4 linked regions of the Homo sapiens genome follow. The protein of the gene in region 3 binds, or shares a complex with, the protein of the main gene of each other region. Each region holds a gene or a part of one and is shown on either strand. Other genes may lie near its edges.

Region 1 (3,500 bases), on a different chromosome or scaffold from region 3:
CCTGAGATGGGGTTTTGCTATGTTGCCCAGGGTGGTCAGGAATTCCTAAGCCCAAGCAGTCTTCCCACCTCACCCTCCCAAAGTGCACAGATTACAGGCATGAGCTGAGCCACTGCACCTGCCCATTATAAGGATTTCAGGTTTTACTTTATGGCAAGTGGAGAGCCATTATGAGGGTTTGAGCAAAGAAATGACAATCTGCTTTACAGTTTGACAGAAGCATTTTGGCTGCAACGTTAGGAATAGATGTAGAGAAAGGCAAGGGTAGACTCCGGTTGACATTGTTAGGAGGTTTTTGGAGTTACCCAGTGGATAGATGATGGTGACCTGGGCCAAGCAGTGGGAGCAGAGGAGTCAGGTTGGACTACCTGGTGGATTGATTGATTTTTGAGACAGAGTCTCGCTCTGTCGCCAGGCTGGAGTCCAGTGGCACGATCTTGGCTCACTGCAACCTCCACTTCCCAGGTTCAAGTGATTCTCTTGCCTCAGCCTCCCGAGTAGCTGGGACTACAGGTGCGTGCCACCACGCCAAGCTAGTTTTTGTATTTTTAGTAGAGATGGGATTTCACCATGTTGGCCAGGATGGTCTCCATCTCTTGACCTGGTGATCCGTCCGCCTCGGCCTCCCAAAGTGCTGGGATTACAGGTGTGAGCCAACGCGCCCGACCGGATTTATTTTTTTACCTTTTTTTTTTTTTTGAGACAGAGTCCATCTGTCACTGAGGCTGGAGTGCAATGGCGCAATCTCAACTCACTGCAAACTCTACTGCCGAGGCTCAAGTGATTCTCCTGCCTCAGCCTCCCAAGTAGCTGGGATTACAGGCACGCGCCACCATGCCCAGCTAATTTTTGTATTTTTAGTAGAGAAAGGGTTTTACCATGTTGCTCAGGCTGGTCTCGAACTCCTGACCTGAAGTGATCCACCCACCTTGGCCTCCCAAATTGCTGGAATTACAGACGTGAGCCACCGCACCTGGCCTACCTGGTGGATTTGATGTGAAGGCTCAGATAAAGAACAAGTGTCTGGATGGATGGCATTGCTATGAAGATAAGGAAAGCTGAGCCTGGGCCAGACACTTCGGCTCACGCCTTTAATTCCAACACTTTGAGAGGCCAACGCTGGAGGATTGCTTGAGCCCAAAACTTCAAAGTGGTGGGATTGAAGCCCTGAGGTGTAACAGAAAAAGATAAAAATCTGGGCTGGGCCTGGTGGCTCAGGCCTGTAATTCCAACACTTTGGGAGGCCGAAGCAGGAGGACTGCGTGAGCCCAGCAGTTCAAGACCAGCCTGGACAACATAGTGAGACTCTGTCTCTGCCCCTGCCCCTGCAAAAAATTGGCTGTGTGTAGTGGTACACACCTATAGTCCCAGCTACTTGGGAGGCTGAGGTGTGAGGATTGCTTGAGCCTAGGAGCTCCTGGGCTCTATCAGTTTTCCCACCTCTGCCTCCTGAGTAGCTAGAACAACAGCCCTGTGCCTGCATACCCAGCTAATTTTTGTATTTTTTGTACAGATGGGGTCTCACTGTGTTGTCCAGGCTGGTCGTGAACTGCTGGGCTCAAGCGATCCTCCTACCTTGGGCTCCCAGAGTGTTGGAATTACAGGCATGAGCCACTAGGCCCAGTCCAGATTTTTTTTTTTTTTTTCCTGAGACGGAGTCACCCTGGCTGGAGTGCAGTGGCGTGATCTCGGCTCACTGCAACCTCTGCCCTCTGGTTTCAAGTGATTCTCGTGCCTTAGTCTCCCTAGTAGCTGGGATTACAGGTGTGCACTACCACGCCCTGCTAATTTTTGTATTTTTAGTAGAGATGGGGTTTCTCCATGTTGGCCAGGCTGGTCTCGAATTCCTGACCTCAAGTGATCCGCCCGCCTCGTCCTCCCAAAGTGCTGGTGGGATTACAGGCGTGAGCCACTGAACCTGGCCCCAGCCCAGATTTGTATCTTTCTCTGTTACACCTCAGGGCTGACTCACGTGGGGATGGACATAAGACACTCGGAGTTCCTCCCCTGTCTCCACTGTCCTCCCTTTGTTGGCCCTCTCCCTGTGTCTCACGTTTCTTTTTCTTCTGCCTGCCCCGTTCCTCTGCCAGGGTCTCCGTCTCTCCACCGGGGGCTTCATCCTTCCAGGGAGGAGAAGAGGGACTCCAGAATGGCTGAGGAGAAGAAGCTGAAGCTTAGCAACACTGTGCTGCCCTCGGAGTCCATGAAGGTGGTGGCTGAATCCATGGGCATCGCCCAGATTCAGGAGGAGACCTGCCAGCTGCTAACGGATGAGGTCAGCTACCGCATCAAAGAGATCGCACAGGTGACCCGGCCCTTCTGTCCAGCTCTACATTGGGTCCATGTCACCCAGGGCCCCGTCCTTAGGATTTTGGGCTGATGTCTGTTCTGTCACCGACCCCAGGATGCCTTGAAGTTCATGCACATGGGGAAGCGGCAGAAGCTCACCACCAGTGACATTGACTACGCCTTGAAGCTAAAGAATGTCGAGGTGATTTGGGGAGACAGGCGGGGGGGGGGTGAGACGCCATCCTTCAGCCAGGTCTCCTCCGGCTCCCTTCTTACCCATGCCCCTCTCTCCTGCCACAGCCACTCTATGGCTTCCACGCCCAGGAGTTCATTCCTTTCCGCTTCGCCTCTGGTGGGGGCCGGGAGCTTTACTTCTATGAGGAGAAGGAGGTTGATCTGAGCGACATCATCAATACCCCTCTGCCCCGGGTGCCCCTGGACGTCTGCCTCAAAGGTTGGGGGAGGGGAGAGCAGGGTGGCAGGGAGGAGGGAAAGGAGGACAGATGTGTGTAGGTGTGAGGAGCCTCACAATAGAAGAAAAGCTCAGTGTGAGATCCCTGGTGAGTTGCAAGGGGAGCAGGAGTGGAAACACGCTTCCATAGCATGGGGCAACTCCCCAATGTCCATGCGTGGCAATTCACCTTGACACCTGCCTTCCTTGCAGCTCATTGGCTGAGCATCGAGGGCTGCCAGCCAGCTATCCCCGAGAACCCGCCCCCAGGTAACCTCCATGCCCCACCCTCTGGGTCTCTGGGTCCCTTTCCCCTTCCTTCCACCTTTTTTTTTTGAGACAGAGTCTCACTCTGTTGCCTGTGCTGGAGTGCAGGAGTGCTGGAGTGCAGTGGCTCAATCTTGGCTCACTGCAAACCTGTGCCTCCTGGGTTCACGCGATTCTTGTGTCTCAGCCTCCTGAGTAGCTGGGACTACAAGCACACACCACCACGCCCGGCTAATTTTTTGTAATTTTAGTAGACACGAGGTTTCACCATGTTGGCCAGGCTGGTCTCGAACTTCTGACCTGAGGTGATCCACCCGCCTTGGCCTCCCAAAGTGCTGGGATTACAGGCATGAGCCACCGCATCCGGCCTCCTCCCACCTTTTACTTTTCTACTATGCTCATCACCCCTCCCGCTGTGCCTGCTTTCCCACCAGCTCCCAAAGAGCAACAGAAGGCTGAAGCCACAGAACCCCTGAAGTCAGCCAAGCCAGGC
Region 2 (3,500 bases), on a different chromosome or scaffold from region 3:
CAATGTTGTGACCAATAGCAAAACTATGTAATACTTTATACCACTCAGGTAGTCCTAGTTCAGAGACTCATGAGCTGGAGAATTTTTTTAAGCCCACGGGACAACATTAAGGTTCTTTGGCATAAATAAGATCTATAAAACAAAGTTAACAGCTGACATTTAGCAGACTGTTAAAAGAAATGGCTTAAAACTCCAACAGGAAGAATTTAGGTTAATACAAGCCTCAAAATACAGGAGGTCAAAAACACTGCTCTTCCCCAGTTTTCAAGCCTAGGACAGTTACTGTTATAGGAATAGGTAAGATAAACACTGAAGACTCTACTAGCCTTTGAAATCTCTGAATATCTGGTAGTTGACACTATCTGATTTATCAACATTCCAGGGCACCTTCCTAATTTAACCACTTCATTTAAAATAAAGCCATCTAAACAAGTAGTTTCCAAATACCAGTATACAGATCAGTTGTATCATAAATTACTTAAGAAACTCTTTAAGATTCCCGGGTTCGGCAGGGAGCAGTGGCTCACGCCTGTAATCCCAGCACTTTGGAAGACCAAGGCGAGCGGATCACTTGAGGTCAGGAGTTCCAGCCCCTACTCTGGAGGCTGAGGCATGAGAATCACTTGAACCCGGGAGGCGGAGGTTGCAGTGAGCCAAGATCGTGCTACTGCACTCCAACCTGCACAACACAGCAAGACTCTTTCTCAAAAAAATTTTAATTAATTTAATTAAATTCCTGGACTCTACCCAAGATCTTCTGAATCAGGCTCAAGGGGTGAAAGTCAGGTATTTGTTTTTTTTTTTTAAAGATTCTAAGTGATTCTGATGGGTAGCCAGATTTGAGAACCACTGACTAAACTACTATTTCTTGAGCACATGTTAAAATACTGTTGCCAAATGTTTTAAAAGTAAAACTTCCCTTTAATACTAAAATTTGCGATTGTATGAATTATTTCTAGAAGTTTTGTCCCTTCATATAAGCTTAAGTTTGTCCCTTATGTGTGTGCCACAAGCCTGGACTTAGGAATGAAAACTTGCTCCTCAGACAAAAGTAGACAATCTCTACTTACCACCAGTAATAGAATCCTGGTCCTTATCCTTCTTCATTGGTCCCGGGGGTGGAGGTGGAGGAGGCATCAACTTGCAATCAATGTCTTCACAATCAGCATCATAGTCATCTTCATCATAATCTAATAAAACCAAGAAGGTGATCTCCTCAATATCCAAAATATTATACAACCGCCTTAAGCTTCCTTGCCACTCAATTTTTTTTTTTTTTTTGAGACAGAGTCTTGCTCTGTCGCCCAGGCTGGAGTGCAGCGGTGCAATCTCAGCTGACTGCAACCTCCACCTCCCGAGTTCTCCTGCCTCAGCCTCCTGAGTAGCTGGGATTACAGGAATGTGCCACCACGCCCAGCTAATTTTTGTATTTTTAGTAGAGACGGGGTTTCTCCATGTCGGTCGGGCTGGTCTCGAACTCCTGACCTTGTGATCCACCTGCCTCAGCCTCCCAAAGTACTGGGATTACAGGGCCACTCAATAATTTAAAGCACCACATGAAACACTATGCATATCCCTTAAGAACACACAAGTGAAAAAAGCAAGGTGAGGGCCAGGCATGATGGCTCACGCCTGTAATCCCAGCACTTTGGGAGGCCAAGATGGGCAGATCACTTGAGCCCAGAATTTCAAGACCAGCCTAAACAACATGGAGAAACCCCATCTCTACAAAAAATACAAAAATTAGCTAGGCGTGGTGGCACACGCCTGTAGTACCAGCTACTCAGGAGGCTGAGGTCGGGAGACAGTTTGAGCCCAGGAGGTCAAGGCTTTGATGAGCAGTAATCGTGTGACAGAGCAAGACCATGCCTCAAAATATTTTACATATCTATCTGAAACATAGCTTTAGCCTTCAGAAAGAGATGACATCACGGTGCAAGTCAATTGCTATAACATATATAATATCTCACACAAGATATGATGGCTGGGCATGGTGGCTCACGCCAGCACTCTGGGAGGCTGAGGCGGGCAGATCACCTGAGGTCAGGAGTTCAGAGACCAGCCTGGCCAACATGACAAAACCCCATCTCTGTCAAAAATACAAAAACTAGCCAGGAGTGGTGGCATGTGCCTGTAATCCCAGCTACTTGGGAGGCTGAGGCACAAGAAGCACTTGAACCGGGAGGTGAAGGTTGCAGTAAGCCGAGATTGCGCCACTGCACTCCAGCCTGGGCGACACAGTGAAACTGTCTCAAAAAAAAAAAAGAAAGAAAGAAAAGAAAAAATCATACAACATATGAAAGCGTTTCCAAGAGCTGCTTGAAACATTTGCTCCTTTCCTGACCATATCTTTTTTAGAATTTTCATACTGGGCCAGGCACAGTGGCTCGCACCTGTAATCCCAGCACTTTGGGAATCTTCTCCCTCTGTCAGTTTCCCTTAAGACTGGTCTTTCATCTCTCAAATGAGAGATGACACACTTTTTCTATCTGTCATCTGCAGTTTATTACTCTTTTCACTGCCCCTTAACCATTGGCATCACTCAAGAATTCGTCCTAAAGACTCTGCTTTTATTCCCCTATACGTTCCCTATTCCCTCTCTCAAGAATCACCTTCACCTAGATTAAACCCAAATCTACATATGCGGCCCTAATTTACCTCCTCTACAACTCCACGACTCTTCTGCTTCCTAAGGAAACTTTCTACTCAGATATTTAACAGCTGTACCTTATAAAACACTGAAATATCCTTTATCTCTTTTAAATTCCCTATCAACATCACATCCATATGCATTTTCCCAGCTTATGGCTTTAGTCCACTGTCTCCTTCATCAATCTCATAACCCCCAATATACATTTATCCAATTGATCATTACAAATAGTAAGTATAGGGCCAGTGAGGTGGCTCACACCTGTAATCCCAGCACTTTGGGAGGCTGAGGCGAGCGGATTGCCTGAGCTCAGGAGTTCAAGACCAGCCTAGGCAACATGGTGCAACTCAGTCTCCACTAAAATTCAAAAAATTAGCTGGGAGAGGTGGCACGGGCCTGTAGTCCCAGCTACTCAGGAGGCTGAGGCAGGAGAAATGCTTGAACCGGGGAGGCAGAGGTTACAGTGAACCGAGATTGCGCCACTGCACTCCAGCCTGGGCAACACAGTAAGATTCTGTCTCAAAAAAAAAAAAAAAAAAGTGGCCAGGCACAGAGGCTCACGCCTGTAATCCCAGCACTTTGGGAGGCTGAGGTGGGTGGATCACGAGGTCAGGAGATCGAGACCACCCTGGCTAACACTGTGAAACCCCGTCTCTACTAAAAATACAAAAAATTAGCCTGGCCTGGTGGTGGGTGCCTGTAGTCCCAGCTACTCCGGAGACTGAGGCCGGATAATGGCGTAAACCTGGGAGGCGGAGCTTGCAGTGAGCTGAGATCGCGCCACTGCACTCCAGCCTGGGTGACAGAGCGAGACTCTGTCTCAAACAAACAAACAAAAAAGTAAGTATAG
Region 3 (3,500 bases):
GGAAAACATTCACCATATCTAATGTGAAAAATAGGCTACAAAACAGTATTTGACATTTGTGGAAAAAAAAATTTATAGATATATATGTATAGAAACTATCTTGAAACTTATAAGCAGGATATATCTCTGTGGTAAGGTAATTATTTTTTCTTCTTATCTATTTATTTTTTTTGAGACAGCATCTGGCTCTATCGCCCAGGCTGGAGTGCAGTGGCGCAGTCTTGGCTCACTGCAACCTCTGCCTCCTGGGTTCAAGTAATTCTCCTACCTCAGCCTCCCGAGTAGCTGGGACTACAGGCACCCACCACGACACCTGGCTAATTTTTTGTAATTTTAGTAGAGACGGGGTTTCACCATGTTGGCCAGGCTGGTCTCAAACTCCTGACCTCAAGTGATCCACCCGCCTCAGCCTCCCAAAGTGCTGGGATTACAGGTGTGAGCCACCGATCTCGGCCTTCTTTTTATCTATTTATATTTTCTATGCTGTAACATAATTATTTGAAAAAATTGTTTTTGGCCAGGCACAGTGGCTCACACCTGTAATCCCAGCATTTTGGGAGGCTGAGGCGGGCGGATCACGAAGTCAGGAGTTCGAGACCCGCCTGGCCAACATGGCAAAAACCTGTATCTACTAAAAATACAAAAATTAGCCAGGCATGGTGGCAGGAGCCTGTAGTCCCAGCTACCTGGGAGGCTGAGGCAGGAGAATCGCTCGAAACCAGAAGGCGGAGGTTGCAGTGAGCAGAGATTGCACCACCGCACTCCAGCCTGAGCAACGAGAGCGAAACTCTGTCTCAAAAAAAAAAAATTTTAAATAGAGGCCGGGCACAGTGGCTCATGCCTGTAATCCTAGCACTTTGGGAGGCCGAGGCGGGCAGATCACGTGAGGTCATGAGTTCAAGACCAGCCTGGCCAACATAGTGAAACCCTGTCTCTACTAAAAATACAAAAATTAGCTGGGCATGGCGGTGCATGCCTGTAGTCCCAGCTACTCGGGAGGCTGAGGCATGAGAATCGTTTGAACTCAGGATGTGGAGGCTGCAGTGAGCCGAGATCACACCATTGCACTCCAGCCTGGGCGACACAGTGAGACTCTATCTCAAAAAAATAAAAAATAAAAAAAAAAACATAACATAACATAACATTAGAGAAAGGGTTTCACTATGTTGCCCAGGCTGGTCTCAAACTTAGGCCTCAAGAAATCCTCCCACCTTGGCCTTCTAAAGTGTTGGGATTACAGGCGTGAGCCACCATGCCCAGCCATAATGTATTAATCGTTTTATTTTCTTTTGAGTTTATAAAAGAAAATTTAAACACCAAGAAAAATTTATTAAATTTGTGTGGTCAAGTGAGAGCCTCGAAATGGGGAATGATAAGAAAGTGACTTACTGCATCTTCTGAATCTCATCTTCATCTACTTTCTGCTTTTTCTCTTTCTTTTCTTTGGTATCTATTTTCAGTTTTTTGGCTGCAGGATTAAGTAATGATGAGTCTTCCCTTTCAACTGTTGTTAAATCTGAGACATCCTGACTCTCGAGCTGGGAAGATGAAAGAAACTCTATTATATATTTGGCCTACTTTCCAGGCTTGGGCAAAGTAAGAAGACATCATCCTTATCACAAAACAACAAATCCATTTATTGAGTAGTTTTTCAGTTCTAGGCACTGACTGTACCATCAAGGATAAGATACAGTATCTCTCCTAAGGGAAGATTATGGCTCAGCTATGGAAAGAAAACCTGCTAAATAATCTAGTTTTCCAGTTTGGCTATGAGCACAGCTCCAGTATCTGTTTACAAGGGTAATGAAATGCCATGGATCATGAAAATCACCCTCCCCCGGGCCCACTCTTCTGACCTTATTTTTCAGAGGGGATGTCAGCAAAGTCCCCTCCATCCAGCCAGCTCTTCTGCTTCCAGATCTATAGATCTCTTTACTGCTGATGATTCCACATGGAAAGAATATTAAAAAGGAGGCCCCTTCTCATCAAAACAGTGTTTATTTCAATTTGGGACTTTCAAGTGAGCTTCTCACACGTAGTGCTCTTTTGTTCTTATTCTTCAATCCTACTGTTTCATGCAAATGTTTATTTCACATTACTAGTCTTTTTGAAGATAGGTTTGTCTCTTATTATTTATATCTCCCCCCCATCAGCATTTAATGCAATTTTACTTATGCTGGATGTTTAATAAATGCCTGTTCAAACCCCACTTAAAAGTAGGCAAAGACACTTCTCAAAACAAGACATACCTGTGGCCAACAATCATGTGAAAAAAAGGTCAGCTTCACTGATTAGAGAAATGCAAATCAAAACCATAATGAGATACCATCTCATATCAGTCAGAATGGCTATTATTCAAAAGTCAAAAAATAACAGATACTGGCAAGGTTGTGGAGGCAAAGGAAAGCTTTTAAACTCTTGGTTGGAGTATAAATCAGTTCACCATTGAGGAAGGCAGTGTGACAATTCCTCAAAGACCTAAAGACAGAATTACCATTTGACCCAGCAATCCCATTACTGGGTATATACCCAAAGGAATATAAATTGTTCTATTATAAAGACACATCCACACTTATGTTCATTGCAGTGCTATTCACAATAGCAAAGACATGGAATCAACCTAAATGCCCATCAATGGTAGACTGGATAAAGAAAATGTATTTTCCAGTATACACCATGAAATACTATACAGCCATAAAAAAGGAGATCATGTCCTTTGCAGGGACATGGATGGAGCTGGAGACCATTATCTTTAGCAAACTAATGTAGGAACAGAAAACCAAATACTGCATGTTCTCACTAATAAGTGGGAACTAAATGATGACAGCACACGGACACATAGAGGGGAACACACACTGGGGTATATGGAAGGGTGAAGGGTATATGGAAGGATGAAGGGTGGCAGGAGGGAAAGGATCAGGAAAAATAACTAAGGGACACTAGGCTTAATACCTGGGTGATGAAATAATCTATACAACAAACCCCTATGACACACATTTACTTATGTAACAAAACCTGCACATCCTGCACATGTACCCCTGAACTTAAAAAACTGGCTGTTTAATAATAAAAATCAAATCCAAACTTCACCCCCTCTGACTTAATGTAGAATCTTAAGTATACTACAAAACTCATTAATGAGATTTAACTTGTCCCTAAAGAGGAATTCAAATTTAAACTCATACAGGAATATGGGAATAGGTGGGATGAAGGTAGTCTATCTTTGACAATCTTTTCAATTTCTTTTTAGTTACTGATTTATACAAGTTTTCTAACTGTGCTTCAAGTTTGGTGGTTTGTATTTTCCTTTAAAAAATCACCTATTTTTCTCAGATTTTCACATTTATTTGGCCTAAACTTGAACATTAAATGTCTTTATAACTTTAAAGATCTCCATATTAGTGCCTATAGCCTTTCATATTTTGTAATGTTATACATTTACATTTTAAATAATGTTTTAATTTTATCATTTATGTTTTTTAATGTGCTAATTCATTAGT
Region 4 (4,034 bases), about 140 Mb from region 3:
ATTAAATGCCCTTCCTTGCCTTTTGATACCATCTCTTGCAGTTCAGATTTCCGCCCTCCCTATTCTCTCCCTCCTGCTATATTACCTGAGGGGAGGCCAAGCCCTGAGCGTAAGGTGGCAGGCTGTTGTTCTGATCCATGATGTTCACTTTCTTCTTGGCAAACCAGAAACCCTTGCGCTGGAACTCGTCTCACTATTCAATTTTTTCCTAGAGCATCTCCAGCACACTCTTCTCAGCAACTTCCTCAATTCCTTGGGTTATCTTCACACGCCAAGAAACAGTGATGCTGCTTTGGAAAAAAGTCTAAAGTTTAATTTAAGGATCCAGGTAACCTGTACAGTCCTATAAGCCAGTTCTATGGCTATACAAAACACAAACATGAAAACCAATGAAGCTATTTTGGAATACATTTGTTTTTACCTTATAATCCTAAAGTTTTATTCCTTCCATGTTTCCGGCGATTGCATGTAAAATCGCCAACAAAACAAAAATCATTTTGTTACATGTTTAAATAATCGGAAAATGCTCAAAATCGAGCTGTCATAACCAGCATTAAAAACTTTTGAGGAAAAACACCTAGAGAAAAATAATTCCTAAGCAAAATGTAATATCAGAGCAGAATATTCACTAAGCACTGTATACACAGCACTGTTAGGCAAAGTTTAGATCTTTAAATATTCCAATTTTACATCCTCTACAATGTCTTGGGCAAAAAATTAAGTAAATATCAAATTCAATCCAATATACTTCAGAGTGATCATTTATCAAGCTCCTACTGTAATGAAACTGTTAAAAAAAAAAAAGCCGCACAAAGATAAAGCCCTGAATTTTTATAAATGTAATAACCTTACCTCTTTAGAACACATTAATGCAAACTGTGCCTGTTATCTGACTTTTCTTAAATCATCATCGCTTTACTCACTACACATCTGAAATGAGTTTATAACAACATATTCTCACATAGAACTTAGAGGTCTCAAAGTTACAAATTATATGTCCAAAGATCCTTCAGGCATATGCACTTCAAGCATGTGCTGGTACAGAACAGACACTCAGATATTTGCTGAATGTATGAAAGACTCTGACGATCACTTTGAAAGGGCAAAGGCCCCCAAAGACTATCTATCCTACATACTCATCACTGAAAAACAGACCAAAAAAGAAAGCAAGCTCTGCTTCTGGAAATAAATATATCAGAGATATTTTTTAAAATATACTTTTTTTTTGACAGTTATCCTATAATAACAATAACAGAAGTCCTGCAGATGAGGATATAAAGATAGGAGGATATAGTCCTTGGCATCAAAGTGTTCAATATGAAGGGTATGCAAATAACTACTGTAAAACATAGTATTATAACAGCAGGTATGGTCTAAGCTAAGTTCCTTGAATGCAGAAACCAGCCTACATGTCTTTGTGATCTCTGCATCTAGCACTATGCCTGGAATACAGTATGTGATCATGAATGAGCCCATATACACCCCTGGAAGAGAAGACAATATAGACTAACAGCCAATCACTGTGAAGAGAGCGCAGTGTTTTCACAAAGCAGGGACCATCTAACTTGGGTCTCACAAGGTGAGTAGGAATTTACACATCAGGGCTTCAGACAAAAGAGAAATCAAGCAGAAAGAGACAGATTGAAAAAGCATGCAGTATGCAGGCAACAAGCTTAGTATGACTGTATAGAAGGTCACTGCAGCAGATGAGACAGCACATATTGGTGGGCTCATACTATCAGGAGTTTTCAATGTTATTGCATAGGCAATAATAACAGTTATGGAATTTCGGAAGTGCAGTATGAACAGATCTAATTTGGCAAGACTAGATGAATTTGAGAGGAGTAAAACTGGAGGACGGAAGTTTCGTTTCAGGAATCTAAGGTTGAGGCAAGAGATAATGACGGCAGGATTTAAAGCCATTATAAGTATGATTAGAGATTTATCCAGGACCTTCGGTGGCTTCAGGCCACTTTTTGCAAGTAAGTCTACAGAAGAAACCGCACAGTGATTACTGCACTAATTTATCCTCAGAAAAGAGTTGTTTGCTGGGTATCTTCATCTCCTGGAAATTGAAACATCAAATCCGATATTTTTTGGAGGCAATCAAATTAATTCTGCATAGCCTTCTAGTGTCTGTATAACTAAATGAAGCACAGTCTTTTCACAGAAAAGTCTACCTAGAGATTTGGAAAACCATGATGGCCTGAACCGAGAGACGGGAGACCCTGCAAATAAAGTGGTGTGTATTATATCTTAAGCGCTACCGTGCCCGCTGTCTCAGGCTTCTGACAAAATATTTAAGTCTCAATGTTGGCAGCAAAACAGGCGGGCACAGATCTGGGTGAATCTGCTTCTAACATGGAGAAGAAGCGGATGGCAGGACAGGGCAGGGTAAACTTAGGGTCTTCGATGCAAGGGACTGTCCTGTCCCGCCTGCCGCCGCCCAGCCAGCCAGTAGTACCCTGAGCCCCACAATCGTACGATGGGAAGCTGCCTGCGAAACACAGCAGAGTAGGGCACCAGGCGGGAGTGGCGGCCGAGTGGCCGTTACAGGCCGGAACGGCGGCAGCACGAAAGGGAGGAACGTCCCCCGAGGGGCCTGCACGCGCGCCAATTCCTAGTCTCTTCCCCACCATTGCCCCCAGGCCTCAGTGCAGTGGTGGCCTTCGCCCGAACCGTCAGAAAAGAGTACAATCTGTTACCTGGGTCACTGCAAAGATCACTATGGGCCAGCGGAAGCGAAGTTAAACAGCCGGCGGCCCAGGCGCCCGCCACAGCGAACCTGCCCGACCTCACTGAACCCCTGGCGCGCGTTGATAATGTCACTTCCGCCAGTTCTGCCCTCGGCTTCAGCGAGTTGCTCCCACTAGGGCCGAGGCCATGAGAAGTGTGAGCATAGGTCACTTCCTGTGTTTCCATAGGTAAGGAGGGGCGAAGCTCTTGAGGAGTTCCGGGGCGGGGCCGCCGTGCCACAGCCATCTCTAATTGGCCCTTGCTGGACGTAGGAAAGATCGATTTTTAAATGGCGTGTGTGTGTATATGTGTGAGTGTGTTTTGTTGTTGTTGTTGTTGTTGTTTAAAGCAACTAGCGGCGTTACCTTCGACAAGTTACCTGACCTCTCCCCCGCATTTTTTTTCTGTAAAATTGAATAATGATAACAGTGCTTACCCTTGGGCTGTCGGGAGATTGACAGAGATTGACAGAATCAGTGCCTGAGCAGTGCTTGGCACTCAGTAAGCGCGTCCTCCTTACCTGTCAGCAAGAACGCTAGCTGATCTTCAAGCGTGTAGAATGACAAGGAACACTAAGCAAAACAAACAGCTTGTGTTTACACATGCATTTATATTCAGTTCTGCCACTCCCAGTTCATGCACTGTTGTCACATGGCTCTTTCCGCAGTTGTTTCTTAGTGGGACTTCAGCACGCCTTGATTTTCCCTTCTGTAGTTCATTGTGGCGTAATCATATGTTATACTGCTTGTTTTCTTTGTACTTTTTATTATCAGTGAGGTTGTGAGCTCTTTAAGGATAGGAAATGTTATATACATTTTTTATTAGCCAGGACAATTAACGTTCCCACCGTTATTCGAGTTGCCGTTGCGCCATAGTTCTGACAATTTTTTTGTATGGTCAGACTTAAATTTTTGTCCATTGGGGTGAATTCCAATGTTTTCTTCGAGGGGGAAAAAAACAAAAAACAAACAAAAAAAACCCTTTACATCCCTGTCAGCGCTTTTTGGAATGGGCGGGATTCAACTACCAAAGGGACAAGCCGCCGTGCAGCCCTCCAGGAGCAACGACTAGCGTGAGATAGAGAGGCCGGGAGCGAACTTCAGGAGAAGCCGGAAGTGGCGTAACGTCCGGTCAAGGCAGCCATCTCGCCGTGAGACAGCAAGTGTCGGATCCGCAGGCGCAGCCGTGCGATGTTGTCCTCTACAGCCATGTATTCGGCTCCTGGCAGAGACTTGGGGATGGAACCGCACAGAGCCGCGGGCCCTTTGCAGCTGCGATTTTCGCCCTACGTTTTCAAC

Evidence for each region.
Region 1: TAF11 (region 3) and TAF6 share a complex: the UniProt entries of both Homo sapiens proteins name them as parts of the TFIID basal transcription factor complex.
Region 2: TAF11 (region 3) and TAF1 share a complex: the UniProt entries of both Homo sapiens proteins name them as parts of the TFIID basal transcription factor complex.
Region 4: TAF11 (region 3) and TBP share a complex: the UniProt entries of both Homo sapiens proteins name them as parts of the TFIID basal transcription factor complex.

What each region holds. Positions count from the first base shown.
Region 1 is NC_000007.14:100,112,859-100,116,358, reverse strand, and holds part of TAF6 (transcription initiation factor TFIID subunit 6), read left to right. Parts: intron 1-60; exon of another isoform or gene 61-513; intron 514-2,090; coding exon of another isoform or gene 2,091-2,149; coding exon 2,150-2,305; intron 2,306-2,404; coding exon 2,405-2,491; intron 2,492-2,589; coding exon 2,590-2,743; intron 2,744-2,953; coding exon 2,954-3,010; intron 3,011-3,441; coding exon 3,442-3,500. UniProt on the Homo sapiens protein: The TFIID basal transcription factor complex plays a major role in the initiation of RNA polymerase II (Pol II)-dependent transcription.
Region 2 is NC_000023.11:71,372,857-71,376,356, reverse strand, and holds part of TAF1 (transcription initiation factor TFIID subunit 1), read right to left. Parts: intron 1,191-3,500; coding exon 1,071-1,190; intron 1-1,070. UniProt on the Homo sapiens protein: The TFIID basal transcription factor complex plays a major role in the initiation of RNA polymerase II (Pol II)-dependent transcription.
Region 3 is NC_000006.12:34,881,543-34,885,042, forward strand, and holds part of TAF11 (transcription initiation factor TFIID subunit 11), read right to left. Parts: exon of another isoform or gene 1,896-3,500; coding exon of another isoform or gene 1,857-1,895; intron 1,539-1,856; coding exon 1,390-1,538; intron 1-1,389. UniProt on the Homo sapiens protein: The TFIID basal transcription factor complex plays a major role in the initiation of RNA polymerase II (Pol II)-dependent transcription.
Region 4 is NC_000006.12:170,553,135-170,557,168, reverse strand, and holds the start of TBP (TATA-box-binding protein), read right to left. Parts: upstream 2,801-4,034; 5' UTR 2,706-2,800; intron 288-2,705; 5' UTR 140-287; coding exon 86-139; intron 1-85. Other genes in the region: PSMB1 (proteasome subunit beta type-1), read left to right, coding at 3,927-4,034. UniProt on the Homo sapiens protein: The TFIID basal transcription factor complex plays a major role in the initiation of RNA polymerase II (Pol II)-dependent transcription.